Homo sapiens: one gene and its partners. The protein of the gene in region 2 interacts with the protein of the main gene of each other region in a pairwise test. Each region holds a gene or a part of one and is shown on either strand. Other genes may lie near its edges. The genes, in order: alpha-crystallin A2 chain, TMTC1 and GSN.

Region 1 (3,652 bases), on a different chromosome or scaffold from region 2:
TTAAAACTGGCCATATTCTGAAACTTGGTTCAACTGACAAATCTAAACATTCTTCTTCTTCTTCTTTTTTTTTTTTTTTTTTTTTTTTTGAGACAGAGTCTCGCTCTGTCGCCCAGGCTGGAGTGCAGTGGCATGATCTCGGCTCACTGCAACCTCTGCCTCCTCAGTTCAGGCAGTTCTCTGCCTCAGCCTTCTAAGTAGCTGGGATTAGAGGCGCCTGCCACCATGCCCTGCTAATTTTTTGTATTTTTAGTAGAGTTGGGGTTTCACCATCTTGGCCAAGCTGATCTTGAACTCCTGACCTCGTGATCCCCCTGCCTCGGCCTTCCAAAGTGCTGGGATTACAGGCGTGAGTCACCGCGCTTGGCCATTTTCTTCTTTAGTGACCAAAATTCCTCCCCTTAGGCATTTTTGGTCATTCAGAAGGAAAATCTAAATTATGGACACTTGTGCTTCTAGAGCAGACATGCATCTGCAGAGACGGCAGCTGGATTCGTGGACAATGCTTATGGTGCCACCTTCTGTCAGTATCTAGAAACATGGTCTCACTTAACCCGTGAAGACCCCAGACTATAATAGCTAAAATGGGGCGCCTTTAAAGTAACTAGTTTATGCACTCAATAGGAAAAATCTGCATCTAAAATTTAAAAACTGAGAGAGCTATTTTTCAATGATACTTAGAAGCTTCTAAAAGAAGTTCTGATGAAGTCATTTCTTTGCAAGAAGAAAACAGAAGATTATCTGAAACTATTTCTTTTGTTTGTTTGTTTTGAGACAGAGTCTTGCTCTGTTACCCAGGCTGGAGTGCATTGGCGTGATCTTGGCTCACTGCAACCTCTGCCTCCCAGGTTCAAACGATTCTTCTGAGCTGGGATTACAGGCATCCCCCACCTTGCCTCGCAATTTTTTTTTTTTTTTTTTTGAGACAGAGTTTCATTCTTGTTGCCCAGGCTAGAGTGCAGTGGCACGATCTCAGCTTGTTGCAACCTCCCCCTCCCGGGTTCAAGCGATTCTTCTGCCTCAGCCTCCCAGTAGCTGGGATTACAGACACCCACCACCATGCCTGGCTAATGTTTTGTGTTTTTAGTAGAGACAGGGTTTCACCATGTAGGCCAGGCTGGTCTCGAACTTCTGATCTCAGGTGATCCACCAGCCTTGGCCTCCCAAAGTGCTGGGATTACAGGTGTGAGCCACCACGCCCAGCCATCCACAGTTCTTTTTAAAATTTAGAAGTAGTTTCAGGCTGGGTGAGGTGGCTCACACCTGTAATCCCAGCACTTTGGGAGGCCAAGGTGGGTGGATCACGAGGTCAGGAGTTCAAGACCAGCCTGGCCAAGATGGTGAAACCTCATCTCTATTAAAAATACAAAAATTAGCCGGGCATGGTGGCGGGCGCCTGTAATCCCAGCTACTTGGGAGGCTGAGGCAGAGAATCACATGAAACCCAGGAAGCGGAGGTTGCAGTGAGCCAAGATGGCGCCACTGTACTCCAGCCTGGGTGACAGAGTGAGACTCTGTCTCAAAACAAAAACAAAAACAAACAAACAAAAAGACCATGGAGGCTTTCTCCTGTTTGTTTCCAGCTGCTGCTTCTCCTTCTGCCTCTGGGATGATCTAAACTCATCTCTTTCTGCCTGTTCCCTCAGCTCCCATACATCTCTTAAGCAGTGTTTTTGGAATTCCACAATGCACACATTTCCTTCTCTCAAAAAGGGGAAAGTATATTTAAATTTGGAACAGACTGGGTGCGGTGGCTCACACCTGTAATCCCAGCACTTTGGGAGGCCAAATTGGGCAGATCACCTGAGGTCAGGAGTTCGAGACCAGCCTGGCCAACAGGGTGAAAACCCGTCTCTACTAAAAATAAAAAAAGATTAGCGGGGAGTGGCTGCGGGCTCCTGTAATCCCAGCTACTTGGGAGACTGAGGCAGGAGAATCACTTGAATCCGGGAGGCAGAGGTCGCAGTGAGCCGAGACGGCGCTATCGCACTCCAGCCTGGGCGACAAGAAGGAAACTGCGTCTCAAAAAAACCCAAAACAACAACAACAACAAAAATAAAAAATAAAAAATAAAAGAAATAGGCCAGAAAAGAAATGTTAGCTCAAGCCTGTAATCCCAACACTTTGGGAGGCCAAGGCTGGTGGATCACATGAGGTCAGGAGTTCAAGACCAGTCTGGCCAACATGGTGAAACCCCATCTCTACTAAAAACACATGTGGTGGCATGTACCTGTATTCCCAGCTACTCGGGAGGCTGAGGCAGGAGAATCGCTTGAACCCAGTAGGTGGAGGTTGCAGTAAGCTGAGATGGTGCCACTGCACTCCAGCCTGGGCGACAGAGCGAGATGCTGCCAAAAAGAAAAAGAAAAAGAGAAAGGAAGGGAGGGAAGGAGGGAGGGAAATTAAAAAAATAAAATGCTAACATCCAGGGAATTAGTTCAGCTGAGATCAGATCTGAAACAAGTCAAAACCCTTTAAATGCTCAAACTGCCTGCTCTGGAGCCCCTGCAGGGTTTGTCAGTGCTCCAGCCTGTGGGCCAGAGGCTATGAGTCTCTACAAACATGAGGCTATGTTTGCAGCCTGGGTTCAATTTCCAGTCCTGTTTTTTTTTTTTTTTTTTGAGACGGAGTCTTGCTGTGTTGCCCATGCTGGAGTGCAGTGGCATGATCTCGGCTCAGTGCAGCCTCCGCCTTCCAGGTTCCAGCAGTTCTCCTGCCTCAGCCTCCCGAGTAGCTGGGATTATAGGTGCCCACCACCACGCCCAGCTAATTTTTTGTATTTTTAGTACAGACAGGGTTTCACCATGTTGGCCAGGCTGGTCTTGAACTCCTGACCTCAGGTGATCTGCCTGCCTCGGCCTCCCAAAGTGCTGGGATTACAGGTGTGAGCCACCGCGCCTGGCCTTCTTTTTTTTTTTTTTTTTTTTTTGAGATGGAGTTTCGCTCTCGTCACCCAGGCTGGAGTGCAATGGCATGGTCTAAGCTCACTGCAACCTCCACCTCTCAGGTTCAGTCAATTCTTCTGCCTCAGCCTCCCAAGTAGGTGGGATTACAGGTGCTCACCACCACGCCTGGCTAATTTTTGTGTTTTTAGTAGAGATGGGGTTTCACCATGTTGGCCAGGCTGGTCTCGAACTCCTGACGTCAAGTGATCCACCCACCTCAGCTTCCCAAAGTGCTGGGATTACAGGTGTGAGCAGCAAGATTTCTTTTTCTGAGCTGTCTTTAGAGTGGTTCTGACGCTTAGGAAGACTGCTTTGCATTTCTTTGGAGATGCTTGGTTCAGCCTTGGTTAAGTCATGACCTTCGTTATGCCATTACCTTGGTTAAATCTTTGTTTTTGAGATGGAGTCTCGCTGTGTCACCCAAGCTGGAGTGCAGTGGTGCGATCTTGGCTCACTGCAACCTCTGTCTCCTGGGTTGAAGCAATTCTCCTGCCTTAGCCTCCCGAGTAGCTGGGATGACAGGTGCATGCCACCACACCTGGCTAATTTACCTTGGTTAAGTCTCACTGGTTTTGTGAGTAACTTGAAAATGTCCATTTCGTTTTTTTTTTTGAGATGGAGTTTCGCTCTCATTGCCCAGGCTGGAGTGTAAGGGATGGCCTGATCTCGGCTCACTGCAACTTCGGCCTGCCAGGTTCAAGCGGTCC
Region 2 (3,652 bases):
AGATGGGAGGATCTCTTGAGCCCTGGGAGGTGGACCTTGTAGTGAGGTGAGATCATGCCACTGCACTCCAGCCTGGGCAACAGAGGAAGACCTTGTCTCAAATATATATACATTCTTCATTATCTTTGATTTTCTCACTGGGAATTAGTGGCCCTGACAAAATAACTTTCTTACACTCCAGTTTTCCCACGTATCGATGAGTGGCAATAAAATATCCTTGATTACTTTACAGGGAGGTGGTGTGATACAGTTGAAAGAAAACAAGATTTGGCATCAGACGTTTTCCCTGACCATGTGTTCATCTGGACCACCCCACCAGCCCCTCTCAGGTCCTAGTGACCATTCTGCCCCCAGCACCCACTGACCCCACTGCAGCCAAAGATCCCTTCAAAGCAAATATCTGATCATGTTCCTCCTCTCCACAAAAACCCAAAGCTTCTCCCATGGTAAGGAACAAAACCCTTGGCCTGGCCCCAAGGAGTCTCCTCCCAGCAGCCTGTGCTTGCGTTCCTACGGTGCTCCTGCTCCCTCACTCCCATTCCTCAGAGAGGCCCCTCACTGCTGCCACAGGGCTTTGCATGTGCGTTTCCCTGCCCAGAATCCTCCTTGCTTCTTCCTCTGCCTAACAACTCTTATTCTTCATCCAGCCCTCACCTCCACATCACTTTACAGGGAGACCTGGCCTCCCAGACTCATCGGGTCCCCTGATTATATGCTCTTTGGGAGAGGTAGCGCTTCATGATATTCCTGGGCACAGCTATCACTCTACATTTGTTTTGTGAGTACCTGTTTAATCTCCTTCTCTATGGGTTAGCTCCATGAAGACAAGGGCAGTGACTTTTTTTTTTTTTTTTCATACCACTTTATTTCTGATGCCTACTACAGTGGCCAGGACATAGTGGGCCTTCAACAATTACTTCATTGAGTCAGTTTATAAATTTACTGATTATGTGACTTTTAAAATGGAGATAATAACAGTTGTGACATTGGGTCACCCTGTGTTTCCTTCTTATATATTGTTTCATGTAATCTTCCTATATATTCCTCTTCTATATTGTTTTATGTAATCCTCATAACAACCCTGTAAAGCATGGTTGTTATGAGGATTACATAAAACAATATATAAGAAGGAAAATACAAAATAATAAAGCATATAAATGTTGGTCTTGATCTTTATAGACTTAGCTGAAAACAAACTAAGACAATACCACATAAAAGCTTTACACCAAAGATAAGCCAAGAAAAATATTATTACAAGGGGACATCTTAGGTGTTAAGGGGATATCTGTGAAAAGTTTCCAAGAGATAGGATATGCTGACGGATAAGATTTAAGATTTCCCAGGCTTATAAACACGCAAACTGGAGAATCACTTAGGTGCACCCCATGTTTAACCTATGAATCCAAAGAACTCTAAACAATGTCCTTCTTTACCTTGTCGTGGTTCTCCTGCTTGCTATAGATGGCTGACAAGAGGCGATAGCATTCAAGGCATCCGGTCTCCTCTGACACAATGTGATTGGTCATCTTTTCAGCTTCTTTTGTCTGACCCATCACGGCCAAAACCTGAGCCTACAAAACCACATGGACCTTGGCTTAGCAGAGACTTCATTACCTTATCAAATAAAGCATCCCTGAATAGAAGCATTCAGAACGCACTCCTGACAAACATGCTCAGCATCAATTTAGTGACTCATAGAGAAGGCTGAATCACCAGTTTTCAGGTTTTGACTTTTTGCTGTTTGTTTCTTTATTTAGTTTTGTGCATGCATTTGTGAGTGAGTGGCAGAAACACTAAATATATCCAGTGAAATGGCTTGTGGCTTTTAAAAAAGGTTGACCAAATAAGTCAGAAGAGAAAGAATTTCCTCTGATTTCATCAGAACAGTGTGTTTACAGCAAGATAACAAATTTGATTTATTGCACATCTAAGGAAAAGGATGAGTGAAGTTCCAAACACTGAAATAAAAATTTTGTTGGTATGAATGTTAATTTTCCTGAGTCTAATAAATACACTGTGGTTATGTTAGAGAATGTCCTTCTTAGAAACTATTTGCAAAGGTATTTAGAGATAAAGGGGAATGATATATACAACTAATTCCCACATGGTTCAGGAAAAAAATAACACACACTAATAATAGGTATATACAAACATACATATCTAAATATGCACACATATACATGTAGGTACATATACATCTACATATGCATACACAATGGAGTGATAAATGAATCAAAATGTTACAAATCATTGGAGCTGGATGAAAGGGTATATGTAAATTTTTTACTATTCTTGCAACACTTTCATAAGTTTGAAGTTATTTCAAAACAAAAATGCAGTATTTTTGGTGTCCATGTCTTTAGAGAATGGCTCTAACATTAGCTGTATGAATATTCATACAGTGGATATATTACGGCATTCCAGCTCCAGTTTTGAGGCGTGAGGACTACAGCTCTCTCTATGGCTGCCTGTGCTTAGGTTGCCAGCTTCATTTTCTTTCATCCTACTCACCAGTGCCAAGCGGAGCTCCCTCTGAGAAGGCTGAAGTGCTGCAGCTTCCTGGTAAATCTGCAAAGCCTCTTCGTATCGGCCAGTGTTGTAATACAGTGCTCCCAAAGGTGACAATATCTCAGCTTTGTGTGCCACCTGCAGGGCGCTGAGTTTGGAGAAAATCTAAATGACATTTCTCTTCTAATAGGTACATTTCCAAATGTCTAGGCTTAGATTTAGGGAAGACGGTCCATGGTTTGAACCTCTGCTCCAATACGGTCTTTGTTTTTATATCAATAACAAGGTTTTTGGCTTTTTCTTTTTTTTTGAGACAGAGTCTCACTCTGTCACCCAGGCTGGAGTGCAGTGGCACAATCTTGGCTCATGCAACCTCCACCTCCCAGGTTCAAGTGATTCTCCTGCCTCAGCCTCCTGAGTAGCAGGGATTACAGGTGCCCGCCATCATGCCCGGCTAATTTTTGTACTTTTAGTAGAGACGAGGTTTCACCATGTTGGCCAAGTTGGTCTTGAACATCTGACCTCAGGTGATTCGACCATCTTGGCCTCCCAAAGTGCTGGGATTACAGGCATGAGCCACCGCACCTGGCCAAGAACAAGGTTTTTACAAAATGATCATGATGCCATAGTTGGAACGTAAGAATGTCTTATTGACCTATCAATATGGAAACTGAGCCCCAAGGGTCTTTCTCATTAATTATGATGAATTTGTTCTCATGTGTGCATAGTTTTTCATGTATCCTCATTTTTTAAATTGCTGTTTATGATTGGGGTTGCAATCCATGGCTTCAGAAAACAACAAACTGACTAAAGTGGGAATTAAATTTCAACCTTGGTTCAGCACTATAGTCTAACCAGCAAGCCAAAGTCATGAATTATGATCCCATTTATATTGTGGTTGCTTTCTTTGGAGATAAAAATTTGTATCACCTGAATTGGCAAAATTTGCTAGTATTCTGAGAGCACACCTATTCTGATTAACTAAGAAGCTGATGAGTGATTGCTGAGGTTCCTGGGCAACTTATAAAGAAAAGAAAGGGAACTTTACCGCTTGTACCATTCTTCAGCCATGCTGTTCTCTCCCAGTGACCTGTAGAGTCTTCCCAAGTTCACCATGGCCACGTGATGACTGGGGCTAAGTTTG
Region 3 (3,652 bases), on a different chromosome or scaffold from region 2:
GCTCTGCAGCTATCAATTCCCACTCGCCCATGCTGTATTAGGAGTTGAGCCCAAACTCTCTCCCTCACTGTAGGACCCTGTTGCAGTGGTCCCTATGCCCAAGGCAATGTTCCTGAATAAAGACTTCCTTACCGTGTTTTCACAAGTGTCACTGAATTTTTTTTTTAACAAGAAAAAGCTATAAAATGTGTCATTTTGACTCAGGAACTCCATTTCTAGGGCTCACTTCTAGGAAATAATAAAAGAAGAACACACAAAAAAAGTATGCACTAGGTTGTTCATTGCAGTATTGTTTATAAACTGCCTAAATGTTTCATAATTGAGGATTGTTAAGGGAACATGGTACAGGCACACCAAAGATAGAATAATAGTGAGTGATGAAAACTCGGGTGGGCATTTATTTCTACCATAACAAAAAAAAAGTAGGAGGCAAGACCCTTGTTTAAGGACTAAAGAGCCACTGACAATAACAGGGTACAGCCTAGTGCCCAGATCTTTTAATGTCTATATTCGATATCTGACTTATCTGTCGATTTCATCTGCTATGAGTTTCTAGAATCTGAACAGCTCTTGAAATACTTTGCTGCTTAATTATGGAGCAAAGTAGGGTCCTGTAGGAGAGAGAGACTCAGTAGAAAGCCATGGAAGGGGGAGAAATACAGCTAGCATTTGATCAACCTTTTCACCAGAAGTTTTTATACCCAAGATTATAAACATTATTCTCTCTGTATTTATGGATGCAAACTACAGCCCTGGGGAGCCCCAGTCTTGGTTCTTTGGGGGTGATCTTGGGCAAATCCTGTTTCTCTCAGCCTTTTTGTTAATAAATAAAAAGCATTATTTCATTTTTTAATCCCTAGGACTATTGGAATAAAAGATTTAAATTAGAATAAACATTTATCTACTTAGGTATAGTATGCTTTTAAAACTTTTAAAAATTAAATTTAAAAAGAATCCTTAATAACATGAGAAAAATACTTACGATATAATGTTGAGAAAAAACAGAAAGTCAGAACAGACAATTATAAATATAGGATAATTGTGTGGGGGTAAAAAAAAATGCACTGAAAATATCAGGAAGGAAGGGCACCCAGGTGTTGGCAGTGATTTTCTCTGGTTAGTTATGAACACTTCTTTTTTATATATATACTTTTTTATTTCCTAAATTTTCTATCACAAGTGTAATAGAAATAATAAGGGTGGGGGGAAAAGGTCCTTGGAGGTGGGGAGAAAAAAGTACATATGCCACCCACATCATCAACACACACCCAACAAGTTAACTAGTATTTACTTAGTACCCACCAAAACCCAGCTCAGCCACAGTCTCTGTAGCAGGGAAATTAAGGGCCAAGCCCCACCCTGAAGGCTCACATATGTAGAATATATATACTTTGCTTGGCAAATAAGCTTGGCTCTGATGATATTCTTATTGAGGTTGGAAAATAACAGGACTGTTTGCTTAGCCAGCTCAGCAGAATAAACGAATCCACTCCCACTGGTGCGACCCCTTCACTGGAGTTCCCTGCGAGGCTCCATGGCTTAAAGCCTTTCTGGATCACTCTTGGGAAGAGTCAATTTCAGGGATACTTTATAGCCCAGGAAGAAAACTGTTCTCATCCCTTAACCCAGGCACTGAATGCAAGAGGTGAAGAGGCTCCCCATGAGGCAGAGCAAGCAAGGGAGGAGGGAGGAGCAGGAGGGCCTGGGAAGGAACCTGACAGGCTGTGTGTGGGCCCTGGGGACCCCTGGGCAAAGGAGCTCACGTCTCCAGGCCTGAGTTTCCTCACTGGTAAAATGGGTCACATAATGACAACCCCAGGACTATTGTGAGACTCAAAGAAGAGAACGTAAGTCCTTTCATTTTTCTAAACTGAGCCTCAGTTTCCTCATCTGTAAAATGGAGTCACTATCTCTCCCCTCGTAGATCTGTTAAAAGATTAAAGCAGATAGTGAAAGCAAAAGGTGAACATACATAGTAAGTGTGTTACATATGGTGGCCCTTATTATTGTTGCTTGTAGAGCAGGGAATGGGATACATCAACAAATCCTAGGCCTCAACTCCCTTATCTGCAAAATGGGGCAATCAATTCAGTCCGAAAAGATTAAATTCAAGAACAGTAGCTGAATCACCAGTTGCACCACTGCGGGCTCACTTTGTGTCTCAGACATGCCGGACCCAAGTACATGTGGGGAGCACAAAGCCCTCCAACTCAGAGGCCATCAGAGCTGGGAAGGCTGACATTATGCTGTCCACCCTACAGTGCAGAATGGACACTGGGGCCCAGAGAAAGGCATGCATTAGCCCAAGTCACCCAGTACTTTGTCACTGGCAAAGCCAGGACCCAAGCCCAGGCCTTCAGCTGCCTACCCTTGCCCACAACACCCACTGCTTTTCTCTGCCCTATTCTTAAATTGCTGATGTGGTCCCAGGCAGGGCAGACGAGAGCAGGCATATGGCAGGGGAGGGACAGAGGGAAGGGGAAGCTGGCCAGCAGCAGGAACTGAGCCTGCCTGTGGTCTCCAACTTCACAAACCACATCAGGCTGAAATATGACACACGCTCACTCCGTTGAAAGCGAGGAGATATTTTTACTTAACATCCCCCGGCTGCCTAAACACTGGTCTCTTTTTTTCCCTTCCTCCCCAAAATGCATAACCCCTGGGACGTGCTTTTCTCTGCTTCTGCTGGCATTTTCTCAGGGAATAACCAAGGAGCAGGAGAGTGTCCAGTTTTCCTGGCTTCGCCAGATAGATTTCCAGAGCATAAGCTTGATTGATGAAAAGGGGGGACCAGTCCTGGCTGGGCTCTCACCTCACCACATGACCTTGCTGGGCAAGTCCTGTGTCCTTTTGGAGCCTGGATTCCCTGAAATGGAGGGGAGATTGACCTGCACTGAGGGTCCTGCGGATGGCACAGGAAAGCATGAGTTTACAAACAGCCCCGGGAGGCCCCTCCAGGCCTCTCTGCTGCAGGGCTGAGCTCTCCAAGCTCTGCACACCGACACCCACCCCTCATAAAAGCATAACAAACTCCCTTACCAGTTCTCCTAATACCAGGACTAGAAAGAATTTTCAAGAGAATGTTTAGTGCTGTCATTAATAGCTATGGCTCTGTCGTCAGACCTCTGGAATCCTTGCACCATCACCCAATAGCCACACAACCCGGGGCATGTTATTCAGCCTCGGACTCAGTTTCCTCATCTGTAAAAGAAGATACTAGTATCTACCTCAGAGGAATGGTTGCAAGGAATCAATAAAGTAATTAATGTTCCAGTGCTTGGTATATTAAAAGATAGCTTTTTTTGTCTTTTCTTTTTTTGTTTTGAGACAGTATTGTTCTGTCATCCAGGCTGGAGTGCAGTGGCGTGATTTCAGCTTACTGTAACCTCCGTCTCCAGGGTTTAAGCAATTCTCATACCTCAGCCTCCCAAGTAGCTAGGATTACAGGAGCATCCCAGCACGTATTTTCAGTAGAGACAGGGTTTCACCATGTTGACCAGGCTGGTCTCAAACTCCTGGCTTAAGCCATCAACCCAACTCGGCCTCCCAAAATGCTGGAACTGCAGGTGTGAGCCACCATGCCCAGTTAAAAGATAGCTTTTTATTATTATCATGCAAACCAACATCTCTCCATTTTACACATGAGGAACCA

What was found.
Region 1: the proteins of TMTC1 (region 2) and alpha-crystallin A2 chain interact in binary tests that used the Homo sapiens proteins (3 or more experiments, as listed by UniProt).
Region 3: the proteins of TMTC1 (region 2) and GSN interact in binary tests that used the Homo sapiens proteins (3 or more experiments, as listed by UniProt).

What each region holds. Positions count from the first base shown.
Region 1 is NC_000021.9:6,502,131-6,505,782, forward strand, and holds part of alpha-crystallin A2 chain, read left to right. Parts: intron 1-3,652. UniProt on the Homo sapiens protein: Contributes to the transparency and refractive index of the lens. In its oxidized form (absence of intramolecular disulfide bond), acts as a chaperone, preventing aggregation of various proteins under a wide range of stress conditions.
Region 2 is NC_000012.12:29,514,916-29,518,567, forward strand, and holds part of TMTC1 (protein O-mannosyl-transferase TMTC1), read right to left. Parts: coding exon 3,557-3,652; intron 2,657-3,556; coding exon 2,512-2,656; intron 1,572-2,511; coding exon 1,434-1,571; intron 1-1,433. UniProt on the Homo sapiens protein: Transfers mannosyl residues to the hydroxyl group of serine or threonine residues.
Region 3 is NC_000009.12:121,271,024-121,274,675, reverse strand, and holds part of GSN (gelsolin), read right to left. Parts: intron 2,867-3,652; exon of another isoform or gene 2,813-2,866; intron 1-2,812. UniProt on the Homo sapiens protein: Calcium-regulated, actin-modulating protein that binds to the plus (or barbed) ends of actin monomers or filaments, preventing monomer exchange (end-blocking or capping).